7 linked regions of the Homo sapiens genome follow. The protein of the gene in region 2 purifies or fractionates together with the protein of the main gene of each other region. This does not show direct contact. Each region holds a gene or a part of one and is shown on either strand. Other genes may lie near its edges.

What was found.
Region 1: the proteins of CGREF1 (region 2) and B3GLCT purify together in Homo sapiens (co-immunoprecipitation; one large-scale study listed by IntAct). This does not show direct contact.
Region 3: the proteins of CGREF1 (region 2) and IDUA purify together in Homo sapiens (affinity purification with mass spectrometry; one large-scale study listed by BioGRID and IntAct). This does not show direct contact.
Region 4: the proteins of CGREF1 (region 2) and DNASE1L1 purify together in Homo sapiens (co-immunoprecipitation; one large-scale study listed by IntAct). This does not show direct contact.
Region 5: the proteins of CGREF1 (region 2) and GLB1L purify together in Homo sapiens (affinity purification with mass spectrometry; one large-scale study listed by BioGRID and IntAct). This does not show direct contact.
Region 6: the proteins of CGREF1 (region 2) and PDIA5 purify together in Homo sapiens (affinity purification with mass spectrometry; one large-scale study listed by BioGRID and IntAct). This does not show direct contact.
Region 7: the proteins of CGREF1 (region 2) and OLFM2 purify together in Homo sapiens (affinity purification with mass spectrometry; one large-scale study listed by BioGRID and IntAct). This does not show direct contact.

Annotation. Positions count from the first base shown.
Region 1 is NC_000013.11:31,276,475-31,279,974, reverse strand, and holds part of B3GLCT (beta-1,3-glucosyltransferase precursor), read right to left. Parts: intron 3,274-3,500; coding exon 3,204-3,273; intron 1-3,203. UniProt on the Homo sapiens protein: O-glucosyltransferase that transfers glucose toward fucose with a beta-1,3 linkage. Specifically glucosylates O-linked fucosylglycan on TSP type-1 domains of proteins, thereby contributing to elongation of O-fucosylglycan.
Region 2 is NC_000002.12:27,105,629-27,109,128, forward strand, and holds part of CGREF1 (cell growth regulator with EF hand domain protein 1 isoform a precursor), read right to left. Parts: intron 1-3,500. UniProt on the Homo sapiens protein: Mediates cell-cell adhesion in a calcium-dependent manner. Able to inhibit growth in several cell lines.
Region 3 is NC_000004.12:1,000,544-1,004,043, reverse strand, and holds part of IDUA (alpha-L-iduronidase isoform a precursor), read right to left. Parts: intron 3,433-3,500; coding exon 3,347-3,432; intron 3,163-3,346; coding exon 3,055-3,162; intron 2,577-3,054; coding exon 2,481-2,576; intron 2,366-2,480; coding exon 2,163-2,365; intron 2,063-2,162; coding exon 1,883-2,062; intron 1,776-1,882; coding exon 1,559-1,775; intron 1,313-1,558; coding exon 1,100-1,312; intron 1,009-1,099; coding exon 887-1,008; coding exon of another isoform or gene 700-886; coding exon 574-699; intron 496-573; coding exon 419-495; exon of another isoform or gene 415-418; intron 33-414; coding exon 1-32.
Region 4 is NC_000023.11:154,400,736-154,403,495, forward strand, and holds the end of DNASE1L1 (deoxyribonuclease-1-like 1 precursor), read right to left. Parts: intron 2,647-2,760; coding exon 2,534-2,646; intron 2,456-2,533; coding exon 2,207-2,455; intron 2,107-2,206; coding exon 1,972-2,106; 3' UTR 501-1,971; downstream 1-500. Other genes in the region: RPL10 (large ribosomal subunit protein uL16), read left to right, coding at 1-288.
Region 5 is NC_000002.12:219,236,098-219,239,271, forward strand, and holds the end of GLB1L (beta-galactosidase-1-like protein isoform 1 precursor), read right to left. Parts: intron 3,114-3,174; coding exon 2,995-3,113; intron 2,683-2,994; coding exon 2,608-2,682; intron 2,488-2,607; coding exon 2,398-2,487; intron 2,267-2,397; coding exon 2,153-2,266; intron 1,861-2,152; coding exon 1,729-1,860; intron 1,631-1,728; coding exon 1,415-1,630; intron 1,251-1,414; coding exon 975-1,250; 3' UTR 501-974; downstream 1-500. Other genes in the region: tRNA endonuclease ANKZF1, read left to right, coding at 225-348.
Region 6 is NC_000003.12:123,073,525-123,077,024, reverse strand, and holds part of PDIA5 (protein disulfide-isomerase A5 precursor), read right to left. Parts: intron 1-3,500.
Region 7 is NC_000019.10:9,930,016-9,933,515, reverse strand, and holds part of OLFM2 (noelin-2 isoform 2 precursor), read left to right. Parts: intron 1-3,500. UniProt on the Homo sapiens protein: Involved in transforming growth factor beta (TGF-beta)-induced smooth muscle differentiation.

The sequences.
Region 1 (3,500 bases), on a different chromosome or scaffold from region 2:
GCTGGGCAGAACAGAGCCATATTTCACTTCTCTCAAAAGCAAATAGGAGAAATATTGCTGAATTCTTTTTCTTAGCAAGGAACATCCCTGAGAAAGAGAATGCGTTCCCAAGGGACGGTCTCTGAAATGGCCGCTTTGGAAATGTCTGTCTTTTATGGTCGTTGATAAGGGATGAAATAAGCCCCAGTCTCCCGTAGCGCTCCCAGGTTTATTAGTATGAGGAAATTCCTGCGTAATAAATTTTGGTCAGACTGGTTGTCTGCTCTCAAACCCTGTCCCCTGATAAGATATTATCAATGACAATGTGTGCCTGAAACTTCATTAGCAATTTTAATTTCGCCCTGGTCCTGTGATCTCGCCCTGCCTCCATTTGCCTTGTGCTATTTTATTACCTTGTGAAGCAAGTGATCTCTGTGACCCACACCCTATTCGTACACTCCCTCCCCTTTTGAAAATCACTAATAAAAACTTGCTGGTTTTACGGCTCAGGGGGCATCACAGAACCTGCCAACATGTGATGTCTCCCCCGGACACCCAGCTTTAAAATTTCTCTCTTTTGTACTCCTTCCCTTTATTTCTCAGACTGGCCAACACTTAGGGAAAATAGAAAAGGACTCACGTTGAATATTGGGGGCTGGTTTCCCCCACTAATAGAGTGCACAGGGAAAAGAAAATGAAAAAAAAATCCAACACCCCAGACCATGTATTCTGCTTGACTATAGCAGTGATATGCTTAGATAGGAGTGGCAGTCTAAATTCTCAGCTCGATTTGTATTTTAGATCCTGTGTGGGTTTCAATTCCTTGCCATCCCCATTGCTACTAAAAATGGAAAGCCTACTTTCACAGCTTCTGGCCAAGTCAAAACTGACCTTGAGCATAGCAGGACATCAACATGAATAGCAAAGACTATTTATCAAGTATGGAGTTTGTAATACATCCAAGGAGATTACAGTATAGCTGTGCTGTGGTAGAAAAAAATGTGGGACTTAGGAGCCAGAAAACCCAAGTCTTTGGCTCTGCTACTCAATAGGATACAAGAAACTGAGCCAGTTGTGTATCATTCCATACTCAGCTTTTTCCACAACAAGTGAATAACAATAATTATCATATCACGAGGAAGTGTCAACATGAAACTAGGTAATAGAACATATGTGAAAAACACACCAGAAAATGTAAGAAATATTAGCAGTTAGAAGCAGTTAGTGTGATGTTATCCTTGTAACTGGTATTACTGGATAACTCTTTGGGCCAACTGATGGCTGGACTAGGCTTCTAAAATGAGGGGCAGAGCCCAGTGGTGGCTTGGCAGGCTACATGAAGTCATGCAAAATGGACTTCAAAGTCACTGAAATCCTGTTGCCTTAGACTATCTTTTCAAACAAACATATCCAAGTTGAAAAACGGCTTACCACAGAAACCCAAATATGAAAACTTCATGATACATTTTAGGCCTCATGCTTTAATGATCCCAGATTCAAATTAACAGCAGTAAATCAATGCATCTGGCTTTGGAAGGTTTGTTTCTAATGCTCCTAATAGGCTTTTAAGATTTTGTAATTTTTAAAGACTTTTGACTCAAAATTCAAACAGAAAAGGATTTCATGAATATCTAAAAAGAGTATCTCAAACTTATGCAAAATAAGAAAGCAGTAAACTAGATTATTCAAAATTACTAAATCAAAATTAACAAACTATTTTTTTTTTCATTTCTGTAGAATATAAAAAATACAACAGGGAGTGTCCCTAATTTTACTGCTTCACTGTGACCTGAAAAATGTGTTTCAAAGAAAAAGTACCAGCAACACCATCCTTAACATTAATATTGTGAAAACAATCACTACTCCAAGTGTAGCTTCAAGATCAATTAAATCAATTCAAACAGTTCCTGCTTGCTGTAAAAGAAACAAAACAAAAAGCGGTATAGTTCATTTCCCCAACACCTATTTAAAGAAGGTATTTGTCAAAATAATCCCACAAAACCCTTCCATATTATGAAAAAAGTAAAAGGATATTAAATTTAGGTTAAATTTATGATAAATAAAAATTTTATTTTAACTGCTATACTGATTCTTCACAGTATCTTAGGACTTGTTGCATAACAAATGTATTCATATAGACTGATTTAATAGGATTTGGAATTTAGTGTGGCCATTTTAGGCAAATATGAAGGTTTATAGTTAATGTATTTTTAAGATATAATTGATTATAGCTGGATTTTAATTGATGTTGATGTCTTAGACAATACTATAATCTCAAATTATAATATTATTTTATTTGGAAAACATCTTCCCCTGTAAAATATAATTTGTATGTATCATATTATCACATAAAATATATAAATGAACTTCTTCAGTAGTTCCAATCCCATGAAAATGACAGTTGGTTTAGAAATCTCTCCTACATAAATACCACATCCTTGGTGAAATTGACAGTCTTTTCATGGGGAAAAAAATTAAAATACGCACTAAAATTAGAAAATGCAAAAGACTGCCTAATTTTCAATTTCAGAAAAGTGTTGCTTGAAATAAGGTGCAAAAAGAGAGAAATTATGTCTATTTATATTTAGGATGGGCTTTTTTTTTTTACATTATCGTCACAACTTAGCAGAATTCTGTAATGACATCAAAAACCTGAATAAAAACAACATTAATCTGCATGCCAGGATTTCCTTAAGAAGAGATTCACTGTTTGTACCGCGGCTTTTTCTTCTTCTCCAATATTATCTACTCATGAGCAAATACATCTCTTAACTAACAAGTTCCAAGGTAAGCATTTGAAATAAATTGAAAAAGAAGAAAAAGTCTTTTTTCTTTGTTGGCATGCTGTTACCTTGAAATCCCCTGACATTCTTCATCCCGTTTAGAGACTGCGCACAGACCTAATACATTGTTTGACAAAATGGACTGTTTTTCACACAGTCTCCAAGACTGCCACACTGAGCTTTTCCATTTCCAATTTAAAATACTGCCATAAGCAGTATCGGCTATGACCACTCACGTTTCAATACAAAATTTTCTTTCCTAATTGATCTTGGTGATTGAAATGGTGCAATGAGGAGTATTGATTAAATAACTGCTTTCACTTCAACATCCGAATTGTCATTATCCCTTTTCTGAATTTACACTCAAGAATTCATTGGTACTTTTCTTTAGAAGGTAGTCTGGATTTTAGCGTTCAATAAAATGAATAACCCAAAACATACTTCTGTCACCATGAAATTTCTTGCATGTTTTTACTGCAACAAAAATATCCTTCTTCTTCACTGGCTTTCTCTAAAAAAAAGAAAAGAAAAAATGTATGCATATGTGAGTCAGCGTTAACTTCACACCCACACTAGATCTCACACGCTCTAGAGTTCAAATTAACCAATGTCAAGGATACCAAACATATTTCCGGCATAAAGTTTTAGGGGAGAAATGGAAACATAGGTCAGCTGACAACATAGCCTTTCTGTCAGCCAGCCCTGGACCTGCCTGCTACACTGTGCACGGACTGTGCA
Region 2 (3,500 bases):
CTCCACCTCCCTGGTTCAAGTGATTCTCCTGCCTCAGCCTCCCGAGTAGCTGGGATTACAGGCAACTGCCGCCACACCTGGCTAATTTTTGTATTTTTAGTAGAGACGGGGTTTCACCATGTTGGTCAGGCTGGTCTTGAACACCTGACCTCAGGTGATCTGCCCGCCTGGGCCTCCCAAAGTGCTGGGATTACAGGCGTGAGGCACTGCACTTGGCCCGTCTTCATTTTTCTATGCATACAACTGGCCCAACAGATAAAGTGAGTATACATAATTTGTTGGTGTCTATAAGCCCCAGTAGCCAAAAATAGATGCTGAAGCCACAGCTGCCCTAAAGGTATTCACCAACATCAGCTGGCAACATAAATCCTAGGGTTTTAGTCGTTGCACCTGGAAGAGAAGACAAGGTCCTGGGCCCGTTCAAGGTAGGCCATTGGAACTGAGATCTCTGTATCAACATGAAACCGTCAAAGGGTCACAGCCCAGAAAAAGGATGGACTAGAAAAACATTCAGACTTCCACTTCTGGGAGTGTAATAGTAAATGTCCCAATGAAAGTAACCACAAAGCTGGATAAAAATAGAAAGTATCTTTTCAAAAGCACTGGGTTGGCAAGAAATCCTCAACAGTACAAATGTGCAGTGAAAACAGTAATCTGGGGGAAAGTGAGCTTGACATTAGCTTTTGCCTTAGGAGTATCTGCCAAACCAAACCCAGGTGAACTTGAGCTGCCTGTCAGTGTGCTTGTGCTGTAAAGGAGACCAGAGATGATACCTGGGCCCACCTGATATGAAGAGACTAACAGGAGATTCCCTACGTAAAGCTGGGATTCCAAACAGCTACACTCTGAACATGAACAAAAAGTAAATTTGTCATGAAGAAGGGCAGCAAAGAATTTTGCCTTTCTTGATTTTGGTGCTGTGTAGAAGGGAGAAAAAAAACTCTCCCTGAGACTCTATAACAAGCCTGATCTAATGTGGATTTTTTGTTTTTGTTTTTTCTGGGATGGAGTCTCTCTCACTCTGTCGCCCAGGCTGGAGTTGCTGTGGCATGATATCAGCTCACTGCAACCTCCACCTCCCGGGCTCAAGCGATTCTCCTGCCTCAGCCTCCTGAGTATCTGGGACTACAGGCATGTGCCACCATGCCCAGCTAATTTTTTGTATTTTTACTAGAGACAGAGTTTCGCTGTGTTGGCCAAGCTGGTCTCGAACTCCTGATCTCAGGTGATCCTCCCGCCTCAGCCTCCCAAACTGCTGGGATTACAGGCATGAACCACTGCGCCTGCCCTCTAATGTGGGTTTGAAGCCTGAATTATTAATGCTACCTGTATGGTCAGAACATCTAAAGTAGGTAATGTATTTTGAAGTGCAACCTGGTTGATGGCACCCCCAGATGACTGGCAGAGGAAAACACACATCTCTGGAGCAACTCTAATCCAGGCCTCAAAGAATTTCCATAGGTAAAGTTTCCAGGAATATGAACTCATAGCCAAAACGTTATAAACATACAAAGAAATAAGACACTGAGTAAGAGCCAGCAAAACAATAGCAGGGAAAAGTAGACTTGGAAAAGCTGTGTTGGAATTGTTACACACAGAATATACAGCAGATACAGTTCACATTTTTTTTGTTTTGTTTTGTTTGAGAGAGGGTCTCGCTCTGTTGCCCAGGCTGGAGTGCCGTGGTGCAATCTCAGCTCACTGCAATCTCTGCCTCCCGAGTTCCAGCAATTCCCCTGCCTCACCCTCCTAAGTAGCTGGGATTACAGGCATGTGCCACCACGCCCTGCTAATTTTTGTATTTTTAGTAGAGATGGGGTTTCACCATGTTGATCAGGCTGGTCTCAAACTCCTGACCTCATGATCTGCCCACCTTGGCCTCCCAAAGTGCTGGGATTACAGGCATGAGTCACCGCACCCGGCCAGTTCACATGTTTTAAGAAATTAAAGGGAAGCTTGAAACTATGAGGAAGAAATAAGAGTTTTCCGGCCAGCAACAGTATGTTTTAAAAAAAAAAAAAAGAGGCCGGGTGTGGTGGCTCATGCCTGTAGTCCCCGCACTTTAGGAGGCTGAGGCTGGTGGATCACGAGGTCAGGTGATTGAGACCATCCTGGCCAACATGGTGAAACCCCGTCTCTACTAAAAATACAAAAAATTAGCCAGGCGTGGTGGTGGGCACCTGTAATCCCAGCTACTCGGGAGGCTGAGGCAGAAGAATCACTTGAACCTGGGAGGCAGAGGTTGCAGTGAGCTGAGATCATGCCACTGCACTCCAGCCTGGGCCACAGAGCGAGACTCTGTCTCAAAAAAAAAAAAAAAAAGAAAGAAAGAAAGAAATAAGAGCATAAAAATGACCAAGTAGATTTGAAGAGGAAACAAACATAACTTTTAGAAATAAAAGATTGATTTTAAAAATGCAATGGGTGACCAGCCTGGCCAACATGGTGAAACCCCGTCTCTACTAAAAATACACAAGTTAGCTGGGCTTGGTGGCACACGCCTGTAATCCCAGCTACTCGGGAGGCTGAGGCAGGAGAATCGCTTGAACCCAGGAGGCGGAGGTTGCAGTGAGCCAAGATCACCCCACTGCGCTCCAGCCTGAGCGACAGAGTGAGACTGTCTTAAAAAAATAAATAAAATAAAAAATAAAAATAAAAATGCAACGGGTGAGTTAAATTGATTAGACACAACTGATATGAGAGTTAATGAACTGGAAAATAGATCTGAATAAATTATCCAGAGTGCAGTTCATTGAGTCAAAGACATAGAAAATATAAAACAGAGGTTAAGTGGCAAGGTGGATGGAGAAGATAAGAGATACAACTGGAAAAAAGCAGTATTTGAAGAAATAATAGCTGACATTTTTCCAGTAGGTTGCAAAACACTGGAATATGCCAATCCAGGAAGCCCAACAATTCAATGCAGATTAAATAAACAGAAATTCTCACCTAGACCTATTTTTCTAAAATAGAACACTCAAGAAAAAAAAAATTGTAAAAGCAGTCAGAAAGAAAAGACAAATCATCTCATAGGAAAAGTAATTAGACTGATAGCTGATTTCTTGACATCAATGATGCCCAAATACAGTAATATAGTATTTTAATGTGTTCAGAGAGGGGAGAAAATTGATATTCTAGAATTCTATTCTCAGCAAAATTATCTTGCAGAATGAGGTGAAGCAAATTTATTTATTTATTTATTTAGAGACAGGGTCTCACTCTGTTGCCCAGGCTGGAACTCCTGGCATGATCATAGCAATTCTCCCACTCCTGCCTCACAAGTAGCTGGGACGACATGAATGTGCCACCATGCCCAGCTTTTTTTTTTTGGTAGAGACAGGGTCTCAACTTTGTTGCCCAGGCTGGTCTTGGGTGCAAGCAATCCTCCTACCTTGTAAAAACAATTTTAGGCAAATAACTTAGAGAATTTGCCACTAACATTCCTTCATTAAAGGAAATTCAGCTGGATATGAGTTCGTGCCTGTAATCCCAGCACTTTG
Region 3 (3,500 bases), on a different chromosome or scaffold from region 2:
GAGAGAACTGGATCTCGTATGTCCACAGGCACCTGGGGAGGTCAGGCCAAGAACAAGGCTGGGGTCAAGACAGTCCTCAAAGGTGGGAGCAGGCAGGGCACGGCCGCGTGGACCCACAGCCTCATTCCCTCAAGCCCCTCGGCGGCACCTCCCCAGCCCCTGGGCACTCTTCCTGCCCAGGCAGGAGAGGGCTGGAGCCCGAATGTCCATCTCATGTCCCCTAGGAGAACCCACACCCCACTGGCAGGGCCTGGCGCGTGGCCCACAGTGTGTGGGGTGAAGGGCAGGGACGCAGGGCGGCGAGGGAGGGAGCCGATGGGCCACGGCAAGTGGCCCGAGTGACCGCATGGGTGAAGGGGTCGGGACCCAGGGACCTGCCTAGGACCAGGCAGAGGGAGGGGCGGCCCCACTCACGCACTTGGAGCCCACGTGTTCATCCGACCAGACCAGAACCAGCTGCCCTTGGGTCAGGGGCAGGGCGCGGAGCCGCGTGACCTGGGGGAGGGAAGGGCTGTGATGGCGTCGGGGAAGGGGAGTCCGGGCCGCGGCGCGGGTTAGGGGACTGCCACTTGCCTGCCCGGGCGGCTTCTCGGGGCGCGCACACACGTGCACCAGCAAAAGCGACGGCAGCCGCAGCGCGGGGCGCAGGGTCAGGCGGCCGCCGGCGGGTAAGGGGCGGGGCGCCGCGGCCACCGGGTCCTGGGCGCAGTGGCCGGTCCTCAGGGTTCTCCAGGGGAGCTGGGGACGCTCGGCCCGACCTCAGGGCGAACGCCCCCGGCCCACCGCTCCACCTCCCACCCACACCGCCTCGGAGCCCCCGCCCCGGACCCCACCCCCCCGGGACCCCGGCCCGGCCCGGCCCCTCGCCCCTCCGCGGCCCACCTACCTCAGCCGCGCGCATGCGCCGGAACTGCTCTGCCGTGGGGAAGACGGGCCGGCCCAGGCGCCGCCACTCGCCGTCGGGGCTGCAGAGCCCGTTGTCCAGGTAGCGCGTGACGTAGACCAGGCCTGCGGGGCCTGACACTCAGGCCTCGGCTCCCCGGGCCGCCCCCTCCAGAGCCCCAGCGGGGCCAGAGACCTCCCTGGAACCCCGGCTTACCCGGGCCGGGGGGCACCCCGCGCAGCCGCAGGGTCACCGCGACGCTGCGGTTGGGGTGGGCGCGGGTGTCGTCGCTCGCGTAGATCAGCACCGCGGCGCGCCAGGCGTCGGCCGGGCCCTGGGGGCGGTGGGCGCTGGCCAGGACGCCCACCGTGTGGTTGCTGTCCAGGACGGTCCCGGCCTGCGACACTTCGGCCCAGAGCTGCTCCTCATCTGCGGGGCGGGGGGGGGCCGTCGCCGCGTGGGGTCGTTGCCCAGCCGCCCCCCGACCCAGGGCCGGGCCTCCCACCACTCGCTCCCCCTCCCCTTGGTGAAGGAGTCCCCAGGCCCCGCCACGCGGAGGCCGACCCCGGGAAGCGCGCGGCTGGAGGAAGTGCGCTCCCCGCAGCGGGGCCTTCGCAGGAGCCGCTCCCCAGCCTGGAGGGCCCTGGCCGGCCCACCCCAGCGGCCCCGGCTCACCCAGCAGCGCCAGCAGCCCCATGGCCGTGAGCACCGGCTTGCGCAACAGCTGCACGTGCGGCGGGCGGGTGTTGTTGACCTGGAAGCGCGCGGTGAGCGTGCGCTGCGCGAAGGGGTGCGGGTGGTAGCTCAGGAAGGCATTGTCGTTGCTCAGGAGCGCGTAGGGGAAGGCGGAGGTGGTGTTGGCCAGTAGCAGGTTCTGATGCTGCGCGATGACCTGCGGGTGTCCAGGGCAGCTGGGACCGGGTGGCGCGGCCACCGCTCGCCTGTCCCGTCTCGGGAGGAAGGTGGCCGGGGGGCGCGCAGGGCGTTGGGCCGGCCCACCTTCACCACCATGGCCGCGTAGGTCACGTCCGCCCTCCACGGCTGTGGCAGGGACCAGCCCACCAGCGGGTCCGCCTCGTCGTTGTAAATGGGGGTGTCCGCGAACTTGGGGAAGAGCTGCCGGATCTGCTGCGCGACGACCTTCTCCTGCTCCAGGATGGAGATGGAGCTGCGCGCACCCTGCGGGCGGGGCCGCCTCAGCACCACCAGGGTCAGCGCGGCCCGGGGCACAGCGGCTGAGGGCGCAGAACACCGGGGCGGACGGAGGGGCAGGGCGCACCTTCCTGTGGAGGGAGATGTAGTCCAGCCGCACGCCCGCCTCCCCAGTGAAGAAGTTGGTACCGTCGTGGCAGTGGCGCAGGAGGCCCCAGCTCAGCGGGGATCGCGGTGGGGTGTGGAAGGAGTCGCCGGGGCCTCCCAGCCGCAGGGCGGGGCTGGCGGCGCGCAGACCCTCCGAGCAGGCATCGTAGTAGTTCAGGAAGCCTGGGCCGGGGGAGCACTGCGTCTACACCTGCCCTGGGGATGAGCGGCTTAGCCTCTGCTCCTGCCTTCCTCTGCCCCCTTTCAGCCGGGCAGGACCCCAGGAAGCGGTGCACACCTTGCATGGTCATGGAGACGTTGTCAAAGTCGTGGTGGTCTGGCTCATTCCACGTCTCGAAGTTCCACTTGGAAACATGCGCCAGTCCGTACCTACCTGCAGAGGAGCCTTGCTGTCCCCCCAGCACAGGTGAATCTCGCCTCAGTGACTCCCACGGAGGGAGGGTGCAAGGTGATGAAGGGCGTCTGACTCAAGATGAACCCCATCTCCATGCAGGCCAGCCTCCCGCCCCACATCAGGAAGCGCTGGCTCAAGGGGGTCCAAGACCTGGGCGGCGGCCTGGGTGATAGGGGTGCGGCCTGGGTGATAGGGGTGCAGCCTGCCCAGGAGTACCCCCCACCCCAGGGGCCCAGGGCCTTCGCCCACCCACCAAGCCCAGGAGTACCCCCCAGCCTGGGGCCCCAGGGCCTGCGCCGACCACCAACCTATCCCTTGTCACCCCCATCCCCCCACAAGGGCCTGCGCCTGCCCACCAATGTATCTCCTGACCAGGCAGCAGCCTGCGTGATAGGGGTGCAACCTGCCCAGGAGTACCCCCGCCCCGGCCAGGGCCCCAGGGCCTGCGCTCGCCCACCGATGTATCTCCTGGCCAGGCTGGAGACCAAGTCCTTCCACTCAAACACCTGCTGCTTGTCCTCAAAGTCAGTGAAGTGGCCCGAGGCGCTGCCCATCAGCTCAAACCCTGGAACACAGGAGGGCTGCCCCACCGCCCACCACACACCACACCCATGCTCTGCCAGGCCTGTGCTCCGGCACCAAGGCCAGCCCTGAATGGACATCCAAGGACTCAGAGGGGCTGGGTGAGGGAGAGGGTGGGCAGGGCAAGGGGGTGCAGGCGGGCTGGGAGGGCAGAGCCCACAGCTCACCTGGGAGGAGCTGGTTCTCCCTGAGAAGGTCCAGGTACCCGTCCAGGTGGGTGAAGTTGTAGCTCAGGCCCCGTCCAGTGGACCCCCTGCAGAAGGACGGTCAGCGTCAGGAAGCAGGGTGCCCACACAGCTCCATGCTCCAGGCTGGAACCGT
Region 4 (2,760 bases), on a different chromosome or scaffold from region 2:
TCAATGCTGATGAATTTGAAGACATGGTGGCTGAAAAGCGGCTCATCCCAGATGGCTGTGGGGTCAAGTACATCCCCAGTCGTGGCCCTCTGGACAAGTGGCGGGCCCTGCACTCATGAGGGCTTCCAATGTGCTGCCCCCCTCTTAATACTCACCAATAAATTCTACTTCCTGTCCACCTATGTCTTTGTATCTACATTCTTGACGGGGAAGGAACTTCCTCTGGGAACCTTTGGGTCATTGCCCTTTCACTTCAGAAACAGGTTGACAACTCAGCCCTGCTCATGAGGCAGCAAACCCTGCAAAGGGCTGGGACTGGTGGCCTTATGTCAGTTGTCTACTCTGGAGCTTGACTTGGACCTCCCCAGGTCCTAGGCAGTAGGTTGAAAAACACTGAAGTGCTTTTCATGAAGCACAGCTGCAGCAAAGCCTTGCAATCCCAGGCTGGGGTCAGCCTACAGTTGTGTTGCTTATTACAACACATGCGGACCAAGAGGGGCTTGTGGGCTAGAGGCTGACCAGCAGCGTTTATTTAGCAAGGGTAGGTGTGCATCACATTGGGCTTGTTCTCACCCATCTGGTTTGGCCATTCCTCCTTGGTGGGAATCATCCAGGTACTGCTGAGGTCACCTGCGATTTGCCCCATTTCCTATCTCTAGCAACCTCCTGGGCCCCATGCCCCCACCCCTTCTAGAACCTGCATTCCCAGGGCCTTCACCACCTGACCAAAGGTCTAGGCTAACCTTTGGTCATTTGTAACAAGACCTCGGAACAGACACGTGTGTGGCATGGTTTGGCCTGGGGATCTTAGATGTCTGACCTGAACTATTGTAGAACAGCGCTGGCTTTTGGGGGAGCAGCAAAAATGAGAGGAGTGCTAGGTGGGTGGCCTGAGCATCTGTATCCAGGGACAGGACTCCAAAGGCTTTTGGTCCCAGAGCTGGGGTATGTTGGCCCCAGCCCCCAGCCTGTGGCTCCCAAAAGGCCTCTGGTTTTTTGTAATCTCAGTTTACAGCCATTTCTTAGGTTTTTAATTACCTTTATTTTATTTTGCCAAACATACCTGGGAATACCTTTTATTTTTTTTTTACCTTGGGGTGATGGTTCCAAACCATAAATGTGATTATAGTTAACACATGACCCTTCTAGCGTCCCAGCCAGTGTTTTTCCTGACCTCTCTTCTTTGGAGAGGAGGATGGAAGGGAGGGGTCCGGCATGCTGCTGGCATTTTGCTGTGTCCTGCAGCCCCTTTCCGGGACACCTGGGTTCACACAGCTTTTTAGCTTACATAACTGGTGCAGATTTTCTGTGTGGAGATGTTGCCTTGACCAGCCTTGGCTGGACTTTACCAGGCATGCAGAAGCCTGTACCAACACAGACTACAGCACCCAGGAGGTGCGAGTGTGGCTGCTCAGCGGTTATAACAGGCCTGACTGCATTGTTCACCGGATTATAATGAGCCAAAATGTTTCCCGGTGTTTGCTGGTTTCAGGGAAGGAGTTTGATATAGCAGATTAACCACCCTCCTTGTAGCTATTGGGGCTTAATGGTTTCCTGGTGATTCTTACCAATCCACAATAAACATGGCCCATTGGCATATCTGCTGCACAAGTGTCCTATCTCACCAATCTGGGTTTTTGTTCTCAGTAACTTTCCTTCTTGTCATACAACATCTTCATTCCTCTTTCTGAACCCTCCCTTCCCCTACCCCAACCCAGAGCCCACTTTGTCTCCACTCCTGATACTACACTACCTGGCAGGTGGCATGAGTGCAGGGCCCCTGGCTTCCTCTCCTAATCTAGGCACAAGCCCAACCAAAGAACAAGAGCCAAATCAAACAAGGCAGGCAGGGGTGGACTACAGTCACAGGGCAACTATAGTTGAAGCCCCCCAGCCCCAGGGCTGGATGGACGGGGGAGGCTGGGGTTTAAGTCCCAAAAGGCAGCAGGCCCTGGGGGGGTAGGGGGACGCTCAGGCAGCAGGGCACAGCTGAGGGGACAGGAGTGATAGCAGCAACAGAACAGTGAGGCTGAGAGGCTGGACGCTGTGCGCCTGGCTCAGCTTCAGCTCCACCTCCACGGGGTAGTGGTCACTGATGTTGAGGGCCTGGGAATGGGTGGTGGGGCAGTGTCAGTGCCCGGGGCCGAGGGGCTTCCCTGTGACCCTGCTGCTGCCCTCCCTCCTCATGCCAGCCCCATCCCTTCACCTCCTCCTCGGTGAGCTGGAAGCTCGTGGGGAAGTCAAAGGCAGCCGCAGTGTGCAGCAGACTCCGGCAGCGCTCCCCGTGCAGCACGACGCGGTCATAGGTGCAGTGGGTGCTGGCCCGCACTGTGGTGTCCTCCCCATCGGCAATCACCCAGTGGAAGCCTGGCTCAGTCCGCAGCTCCAGCTTGTCCAGGCGCTTTTTGGTCAGTGAAGCGCAGTCAGCATTGAAGTCCCCAAGCAGGATCACGTCCTAGAGACACAGCAGCCATCAGGCTGGCCGCTGGGCCACCCTATCCTTGTCCCTCCTGTACAAACTGCCCAGGCCTACCTTGCTCTGCCAGTGCTGGGAGACCTCCAGAAACACATCGTAGAGGGCGTTCAGCTCCTTCTCTACGGCCTTAGGAGTGGTGTGCAGCGGGACCAACACCAGGCTGGGAAGGACTGCAAGGCCCAGGGACCGAGGGCTGCCATCCACTCCTGGACCTTCTCCCCCTAGCCCGTCTGGGTGAGGAAGCCCCCAGTGGAGCCAGCCAGAACTCCCCTTCTGCTCCCACA
Region 5 (3,174 bases), about 190 Mb from region 2:
ATGGGGTGCGGGATGAGGGAGTGGGTGGACTGTAATGTTGCAGGGACCATTGGGGGCAAGAGAAATGAGTACCTGCACAGTATTCAGAAGGGTGGTTGAGGGAATTTGGGATGTTCTGGCAGATGCTGCAGTGAAAACAGAAATGGCAGGAGGAGGGACGGGGAGAGCGTGGATTGGAAAGTTTCTGGGGTACCTGTCCAGCCATTTTTCTTCCTCTTGTTCAGACGCTGCTGGAGTTGTGGGGCATCCCTCCAAGGCCTGACTCCCTTTCACTACCTCGACTTCTCTTTCTGCTCCACACGTTGCCTCCAGGATCATCGCCGTCAGGCAGGGAGGCCCTCTTCCTGATCTCTTACAGCTCTACCTGGGGCCAACTCAGGGACCTGAGAGGGCACATTCACAGCAGCCCTAGGTTTTTTCTTCCCCGTGAAACCAGAGATGATTTGGAAGATGGGGGTGAAGGACACTCGGGAACTAGGGCAAAGACAGGGCTAGAGGTATGTGGAGCTGGTACTGTCTCTGGAATTTTAATCACAATAAAGTTTGGCAAGGAATGTGTACTTGTACTTACATTCAGAGGCACTGTGGCCTTTAGTTCCTTAGGGTCACCGTGGCCAGCACCAAGGGATCCTGCCCACTCCATGTCCCAGGTCCAAGGGTTACTTTTTTTTTTTTTTTTTTTTTTGAGATGGAGTGTCTCACTGTCAGCCAGGCTGGAGTGCAGTGGTACAACCTCCACTCACTGCAACCTCTGCCTCCTGGATTCAAGCAATTCTCCTGCCCTCAGCCTCCCAAGTAGCTGGGATTAGAGGTGCCCACCATCACGCCCGGCTAATTTTTGTATTTTTAGTGGAGACGGGGTTTCACCATGTTGGCCAGGCTGGTCTTGAAGTCCTGACCTCAGGTAATCCACCCGTCTCAGCCTCCCAAAGTGCTGGGATTACAGGCATGAGCCACCATGCCCGGCCTACCTTTCAGTGCCCACTTAACTCCATTGGTTCAGAGGCACTCAGTGTATCAGCTGAAAGGGAATTGATATGTGTCCTGTGCAAAGTACTAGTGCTATTGAGGATAGGCTTATCCAAAAATTGGACTTGGGGCTGGAGAGGTACATCTTCTAGTTCCAGCAATGTAATTTTGTTGAGGGCTCCCCTAGGAAACAGCAGGAATCTTGGCACGTAGAGGGTCTGTTGTGGCCCCTGCTTTGTCCAGTACCGGCCCAAGTTAAACCCATTGATCCAGACTTGGCCCTGGGGAATAGGGAGCAGGAAAGAGGGGAAAAGAAAGGGTCAGCTCTCCAGGGGTAGAATCATACCCTTTTGGGTTTCTAATCAGAGGATACTTTCTGCTCCCCTCCTTCTGTGATTTTTCTCTTTTACCTCCCCGCTACCCAAACCACCACCATTACCAATACCTTGGTCCATCCAGGTAGATATAGAAATGTGTCCCCAACTGAGCCTAAAATTGGAAATGTTTTGGAGTAGAATGTGGGGCCAGAAGGAGCTTGAGGATATGGCCATTTTGGCAACTGGAGGGGAAACCACCACTTCACAAGGTTATCAATTTTCAGAGGGAACATCATCCACTGGGTAAGGATTGTTTGCCCCAGAATTGGTGGCTTCAACAGGCCCTATAGGGAAGGAAAATGAAAAGTCATCATTCACTAAGCTTTGAAGCTAAGTTATCCTTAATCAAGCCCTGGGATATAACTAGGCAAAGCTAGCTCACCTTGAAGTCACTGCTGTTAGACCCAAAGCTGAGCCTCCCCATGTTCTCCACCAAGATATCCAGTTTGGACCCCAGTTTCCCCGTCAAAAATAGTTTGTCTCTCATATTTCGCTCCACAACACCCTGGAACACCTGTGGATAGGAGATAGGATAGGAGCAAGGCTCAGCATCTAGCTCTTAGCCACTGCATAGGAAACCACACATTAGGATACTTATTTGGAGGGCAGAGAGAATGTAGCCATCTATCACCCATCTATTCTAGAATTCTATCCTTAATCAAACTCTTCCTCATCCCAGCTTATCCCTGGAACCCTCTGCAAACGTGAACAGGCAGGTGGGAAAGTGTAAATATGGGGAACTTAAGGCTAACGCTTCCTGGGGAAGGGAGGAGTTTGGGGCTCACAGCCTGGAATTAGGTTCTCACCCCATCCACCATCACATAGGCACGGTCATGGACTCCATTATTTGGCACCCAGAATGGTGTTGGCTCAAAAATGGTATGGGTCATATAGGTTCGGTACAACATGAAGCCATGGTCCTGGGTATGGAAGAATGAGTACTTCAGACAAACAGAAATAAAAGAGGACACTGTGACTATAGCCAAGGAACTTTTGCGTATAGCTGTTAAGGGAGGTTGTCATCTCCACCAGATGTGGGTTTATGCCTTACCTGCTTGACAGCCTCAAAGGTCATTGGCAAGATTGAATGAATGGGCCCACGGGGGCAAAGCAAGTCTAGGAAAGCCAGTAAATGCCCAACCTATTAGAATAAGGGAGAAGAATTAGAATATCAGGGAAGTTTCTGGATAGAGGACAAGAAAGAATAGGCTATTTAGAAAAAAAAGGTGTGGTATAAGAGAAAAGATGTGGAGGAACTTACCAGGTGCAGAGTCACAGGTCCAAGCATCATCTTGGGGCTCGGGGGAGGTAAAGGTCCCAAAGGAACTTCCTGGAACTGAGCCCAGATTCTCTCAGGATCCATAGGAAAACCACAGAAAACAATACCTATTCCAAGACTCTAGGGCAGAGTTCCTAACCTGGGGCCCAGGGAAGGGCTTCAGGGATCATGGAGGCTCAATAATTTTGCACACCTGTGTGTCTTCACACATAGTCCCATTTGGTTGAATGGGAAATGCCTCAGTGGGATGCTCAGAAGGCTCTGTGGCCCAGACAATAACCACCAATTTATGGGATACCTTTACAATGTGGGCACTCCCTTCCTCCAAATTAATAAAAGCCTTTGGAGCTTAATGAAATGGTAGGGTACCTTGCTGATGACATCTCGAAGAGCAAAAAGCTTAGGTGTGGGGTCCCCTGCTTCAGATATAGGTGCATCATAGTCATAGCTGGTAGTAATCGGAAGGAAGCGTCCCTTCTTATCGGCACCTGAAGTTGAGCCAATTTAATTAATTCAACATGTATTTCAGATGACAGGCACTACTAAGCA
Region 6 (3,500 bases), on a different chromosome or scaffold from region 2:
CATTTGGGGCTACGCAGCACAGTGTCTCCCCTTTTTATTCCCCATGGCACAAATGTTGCTGTCAACAATGGACAATTCAGGGGCAGGGCAACTTATCTGAGAGCTTATGAAAACAGGTTTTCTTATCCTGAAATTGCAACTGCAGTGCATTTAGCCAGGACTTAAGTCCCTAAAGCTTTTAATGTTTTGGAAAACCTCTTCTTGAGCCAAGAGGGGTCTGGATCACCGCCAGCTTGGTGTGCCAGGCCTGTTAACGAGGAAGAACTGGTAGAGGGAACATTGAATTAGGCAGCAGGGAGGGAGGAAGAGCAGGTGAATTCCCACTCCGGAAATCAACTCTGCCTCCAAGCTCCGTTAACTGATAAGAAAATAACAACTCAGTGTTCATGACCCACGGTGTACATCCATGCTTTTACACACATGATCTCATTTCATCCTCTGAAGCTGAGAGTCTAAGCCACTGTTTCCACCCTTCAGGTCTCAACCCAGGAGTCTAGTCATAAAATCAGTGAGTTACAGTAGCATTTTTAAAAAATTACATTGACTAGAAAACATCAGTGAGTAGCACAGGTAGCAACACTATGCATTCAGTGAGCCCAGTGTGTACTGGGTTACACTGTAAAATGTATAACTGTTCTTGCAGGAGTTGAAAAATTGTCATAAACAATGAGTGTTTATAGGCAGAGGTGGTACTATCCCCACTTTAGAGATGTGAAAACTGAGGCTCAGAGAAGGGATTTGCCTCGGATTAAGCCTAAAACAGTAGAGCCAGGTCCCCGCCAGGACAGATCTGATGCTTTTCTCTTGGGCTGTCAATGTGAATAGTTCCCACAGACATCCCTGGAGCATCATCCACTCCCCGTTGCTCCACCCAGAATAATACCCGAGAGGCTGGCAAGTCTGCTGTCCCTTCCAATCCAGCTATTGAGCGTGACCTGCTGAAAAGAGCTACAATGACAACCTGATCCATCTTCCCTCTGCTACCAGCATGTCCACAAACCCCCAAATCCCTTCAGAGAAAAGCACATGCTCAGGCCAAGTGACACCAAGCAGACAATGGTGACACAGCTCCAATGTGAGCAGAACTTGTGCTACACACTCAATTGAGAGCACCCACCTCGGCTGGCAAAATACCACCAGCCATATAAGATTAACTTGGAAATGTGTCTAGTTTTGTAGCTTTACCGCAGAGCTCGGTATTCTGGGAATACAGATTCCTGGGCTTTATTCTTGAAGAAAAACATCTCCAGGGGCTGGGAGCCCAGGAATCCATTTTACACATATCTCCTTAAGGTGAAGAAACTCCATCACTGACCCATCTTTTAAAAACTCTCTCTCTGGACCCCATATCACTCCCCTCTCCACTCACAGCCAGAATTTTCCATCTCCCCTGCTCCTCCCATTCTCCTCCCTCCTTCCATTGCTCATCCCTCTGAAATCTGCCCTCCCCACAACCACCACAAAAAAGGCTCTTGGTGAAGGCTCAACAATGACCTCCTATAGATAAACCCTACAGGCACTTCCAGTTCTCATCTTGTTTGGCCTCTTGAACTGGATGCGACACTTGGTTTCCCTCCTACCTCTCTAGCAATCATTCCTTTCTTCTTTGTAAACCCTCCTCTCCCCATTCTTTCAATGTTGAAGTTCCACAGCTCACTCAGTCTACCCTCTCTTCCTACCCTATATGGTCCCCCAGCCAACTTCACCCACTCTCCTGAACAGCACCCCTAAATTAACATCTCCAGATCAGACCTCTCTTCTAAGCAACACATCTTTACGTCCTGCTCACTCAGCAGTTGAACTGGAGTCAAGTACAGTTCTAAAATGTTAAAAGCCTAATTCTCATACAAATAGGTATTGAGCATATTTCAAAGTTTTACTTAACTCGCTAATAAGAGACCCTAAAAAAGAGGATATAATCCTGATATAAGATTGCTACATTAGATACCAACAGGTTAATGTCCTTCAGGGCAATAATCTTTGTGCTTCTCTTCTTTACCAAACAGAAATAATTTGCATCCTACTTAACTTTACAAAGTATGGCCCATAAAAAATAATAAACAGAGTTACATCCCCTAGAACACAGCTGGTCCTTAGGTGGTTTCTTATACAATACTCCAGTATGATACTAAAATGTCACAAAATCATCTTTTATTTCCAAGTGTTATATAATTTTTTTCCACTGTAGTCTACGAATTTGGATGGAGAAAAATGACATCTTTATCTTCACTAACCTCTAACTGAAATTTAGCCTTTCCTGTATTATGAATGTATTTATAAATGTATAAATGCTTTCTACATTTATGAATGTAGATAACAAATTACAGTAGTAATTAGGGTAGCAGTGTCTGTGACTTTGCCACCAACAGAAATCATATTTTCTTATCACATTACAAGATATCCTGAAACACTATTTATGCTCATCACAACTTAAAATTATAGAAGTTATCAAGCTTGTACCTTTGATCTTTTTATATGATGCATTAATAAACATAAATATTATTTTATCACAACCTTGTTGTTATATTTTGATAACTGTATTTCAATAAAACTGCTTTCTTTGTAATTCTATGCATTTTACTTTATACATTTAAAAACATTATTCTAAGAAAGACCCAGAGGTTCTCAGAGAAGGCTTTCCTGACTCCTTGAATTAGGTTAGGGATCCCTGTTATACATTCTCTTACCACATTATATTAACACTTTCTCTTTCCAGCACTTACTACCTGAATTAAATAATTAATCAGTGGCTGTCCCACTAGGCCATGAGAGAAAGAGATGGTGTCTGTCTTATTTATGGTTATCCCCAATGCCTTAGCATGAGGCCTGGCTCATAAAAGATTCTCAAGGAAATATCCATTTGGGAAAAAAAAGAAGTATCTGTTGAATGAATGAACATCTGTGGCACATGTAGGATGCTGATGTTGGTCCACCTTCCTTTGAAATAGGGGCATGTACTAATACTCTGCCCAGGACCCAGTAAGACTAGACCCTGTGATGAGAACAAACCCACTCGTTCCTCAAGACCCTTCCCTACTTGGCCCAAACAACAGAGCTTTCCTACCAGGCCCACATCTGGGCTCAGATACTGGATCACCTTTATGTTTAAGCCCCAGTTTACAACCCTCAACCTTGATTTTCATCAACATCTTCCAACAAGGATTAAAGGACCTGCTCACGACTTCCAGAAATCTGCCTGCGCCAAGGGGTTGGAGGAACTGTAGGATTCTTTGCAGGGAATGGACACTCCACCCTTGCGCCCCCGCAACTCTAGTGAGCTGGAAACTCTGAAGCCAGACACAGGCCCACCATCACACCATCTAGGAATGGAATGTGCATCAGACTGGGGCCTCAGTATGACTTTGAGGAATAAAGGCTCTTTTAACCCCACACTCCATGAGTGTCTTCAACCCCCCAATGTAAGATCACAAAGCTAATTATTTAGAAGTGGTTGCAAACTGGTATGTGGAAAGAGGCCCTGCTGATGTAGGGTGGCAATA
Region 7 (3,500 bases), on a different chromosome or scaffold from region 2:
CTGTAATCCCAGCACTTTGGGAGGCCAGGGTGAGTGGATCACTTGAGGTCAGGAGTTTGAGACCAGCCCGGCCAACATGGTGAAACCCCGTCTCTACTAAAAATGCAAAAAATTAGCCAGGTGTGGTGTTGCACACCTGTAGTCCCAGCTATTCAGGAGGCTGAGGCAGGCGAATTGCTTGAACCTGGGAGGCAGAGGTTCCAGTGAGCCAAGGTCATGCCACTGCACTCCAGCCTAGGCAACAGAACAAGACTGTCTCAAAGCAAAAAAACAGAAAAAGATTACAAGGTGGGGGCTATTTGAGCCAGTGTGGTCAGGGAAGGTGTCTCTAAGGAAGTAGTGTTTCAGGTGACATCTGAAGGAGGTGAGAGAGGGAGCCTTGTGGGTGTCTGGGGGAAGAGCATTGAAGGTGGGAGGAACAGAAGGTGCAAAGGCCCTGGGGTAAGAACAAGCTTGGTGAGTTTCAGAAGCAGTGTGGACGCTGGTGTGGCTGGAGAGGTCGCGGGGAGATGAGGCCGGGGAAGCCAGACCACTTAGGAACTTGTAAGCTGTGGGCAGAAGTTTGGATTTGACCCAGAGAGCAGGAGAACAGGAAAGCAGGGCCTGTCAGAGGCATTGTCCATTCATCCAGGATCTATCCAAGATGTTCTGGGTTCTGGCCTGGGAGTGACTACCAGAGAGCTTGACAGTTCTGAGCCCCACTATTTTCCTTGTGGAAAAGATGCCTTCCTGATCCCTGCGAAGGCCTCCCTAAGATCTAGCTACATCGTTGGCACTATCTGGGTTTGGGACCAACTCTTTCCTGGGGCTTTCAGAGGATGGGGAGAAGGAATAATTCAGTTTAGATCACGTGCCTCAGGGACTTCACACTTGCTGTTCCCTCTGCCTGTGACACTGTTCCCCCTGGTAGCTATTTATCTCTGATTTCTGCTTAAATGTCACCTCCTCCAAGAGGCTCACCCTGAACAGCTAAGTGAAATAGCCCCCTGCTGCCACTCTCTGAGTGCTTACTCCGTGTTCTTTTTCTTTCTCTCTCTTTCTTTCTTTTTTTTTTTTTTTTTGAGACTGAGTCTCACTCTGTTGCCTGGGCTGGAGTGCAGTGGCGCAATCTCGGCTCACTGCAAGCTTTGCCTCACCGGTTCAAGTGATTCTCGTGCCTCAGCCTCCCGAGTAGCTGGGACTACAGGCACGTGCCACCTGATGCCCAGCTAGTTTTTGTTGTATTTTTAGTAGAGACAGGGTTTCACCATGTTGGCCAGGCTGGTCTTGAACTCCTGACCTCAGGTGATCTGCCGCCCAAAGTGCTGGGATTATAGGCATGAGCCACCACGCCCGGCCATATTTTTCTTTATAGCCCTCGTTTCCACATTTCTATGATTCTTCTATTCATTCATTCTCTGTTTCCCCACTAGAGCGGCAGTTTATCAGGGTTCAGCTAGCTTTGTTGTTTCTCCAGTGTCTAGAGCAGAGCCTGACACACAGTAGGTGCTCAAGAAATATCTGCTGAATGGATGAATGGATGGATGGATGGACCCCCTCACACACACAGAGTGTCTTTCTTTCTCAAACCACAGGATTCTTTTATCAAGAGAGTGTCAGGGGAACACTCGCTCCTGGATGGAAGGCACCAAGAAAATCCATTCTTCAGGCCAGGTGTGATGGCTGATACCTATGATCCCAGCATTTTGGGAGACCAAAGCCAGAGGGTCTCTTGAGGCCAGGAATTTGAGACCAGCCTGGGCAATACAGCAAGATCCCATCTCTACAATAACTTTTTCTTTTTATTTCTTTTTTTTTTTTTATTTTTGAGATGGAGTCTTGTTCTGTCACCCATGCTGGAGTACAGTACAGTATTGTGATGATCTCAGCTCACTGCAACCTCTGCCTCCCGGGCTCAAGAGATTCTAGTGCCTCAGCCTCCCGAGTAGCTGGGACTACAGGGGCGTGCCACCACACCCAGCTAATTTTTGTATTTTTAGTAGAGATGGGGTTTCACCATTTTGGCCAGGCTGGTCTCGAACTCCTGACATCTTGATTTGTCTGCCTCGGCCTCCTAAACTGCTGGGATTACAGGCGTGAGCCACCGTGCCCGGCCTCTGCAGTAACTTTAAAAAAAATTGGCCAGGCTTGTAGTTCTACTCAGGAGGCTGAGGTGTGAAGATCACTTGAGCCCAGGAGTTTGAGGCTGCAGTGAGCTATCATTGCACTACTGCACTCCAGCTTGGGCGACAGACTGAGACCCTGTCTCCACAAAAAAGAAAGAAAGAAAACCCATCTTCTTTACCTGTGCCTGACATTCCACCGATAGGGCACTGTTGTTTAGGGGTAAGACGATGTTCTCCTGGGGCTCCTTTAGAGCATGTAAATGTCCCAGTGGAGGGAAGTAAAAGGAAATTTAAAGACTCCGAGTTAGTGTAGGAAAGAGCCCCTTGGGGCTGGATTTAAGATTATGGAGCTTGAGCGACATCTAGTGGTCGAGTGAGGTTTGTGCAGGGACTGTGTGCGTCTGTGTGACTGGTGGGTGAATGTGTGTGGTTGTGCACCTGTGCGTGGGCGCGTGCGTATGTGGGATGGGGGTGCCCAGGTCAGGGTAAAACAGGTGAGATACTCGCCGCGGGTGCAAACATTTTAAAAAGTTGATGATGATGATGATGATGATATTTGAAACAGAGTCTTGCTGTGTCGTCCACACTGGAGTGCAGTGGTGCGATTTCGGCTCACTGCAATCTCTGCCTCCCGGGTTCAAGCGATTCTCCTGCTCAGCCTCTCGAGTAGCTGGGATTATAGGCGCACAGCACCACAGCCGGCTAAATTTTTTTTTTTTTGTATTTTTAATAGAGACAGGGTTTCACCACGTTGCCCACTCTGGTCTCGAACTCCAGACCTCAGATGATCTGCCCGCCTTGGCCTCCCAAAGTGCTGGGATTACAGGCGTGAGCCACGGTGCCGGGCCTATTTCTAAGACGGGGTCTTGTTCTGTCACCCATGCTGGAGTGCAGTGGTGCAGTCATAGCTCACTGAAGCCTCCAACTCCTGGGCTCAAGTGATTCTTCTGCCTCAGCCTCCTGAGTAGCTAGGGTGACAGGTACATGGTACAGAGTTCAGCTATAGTACAAAATTTAAGGGTATGCCCCCCAAAAAAATAAAAACCAGTAACCAAGATAAATAATATTTTAATGGAACATTTTAAGAAAAATCTAAATTGATGCAAGAAAAATCTATAATGAATAAAAACAAATTTTTAAATAAATATGGGCTCCCCCTCTGCACTTGCATAACTTGCCTCACTCTAACTTTGGCCCCATAGGCATGTGTCTGTGGTGTCATGCGTGTATGTGTATGTTTGGTGACTGTGTGCATGTTCAGGGACCATGAGCACAGGGACATGCTTGTATCATCATCACACCAGTGACTGTATCCATGTAGGCCAACCATATGGTATGTGTGGATTTCTTTCTTTCTTTCTTTTTTTTTTTGAGATGGAGTTTCGCTCTTGTTGC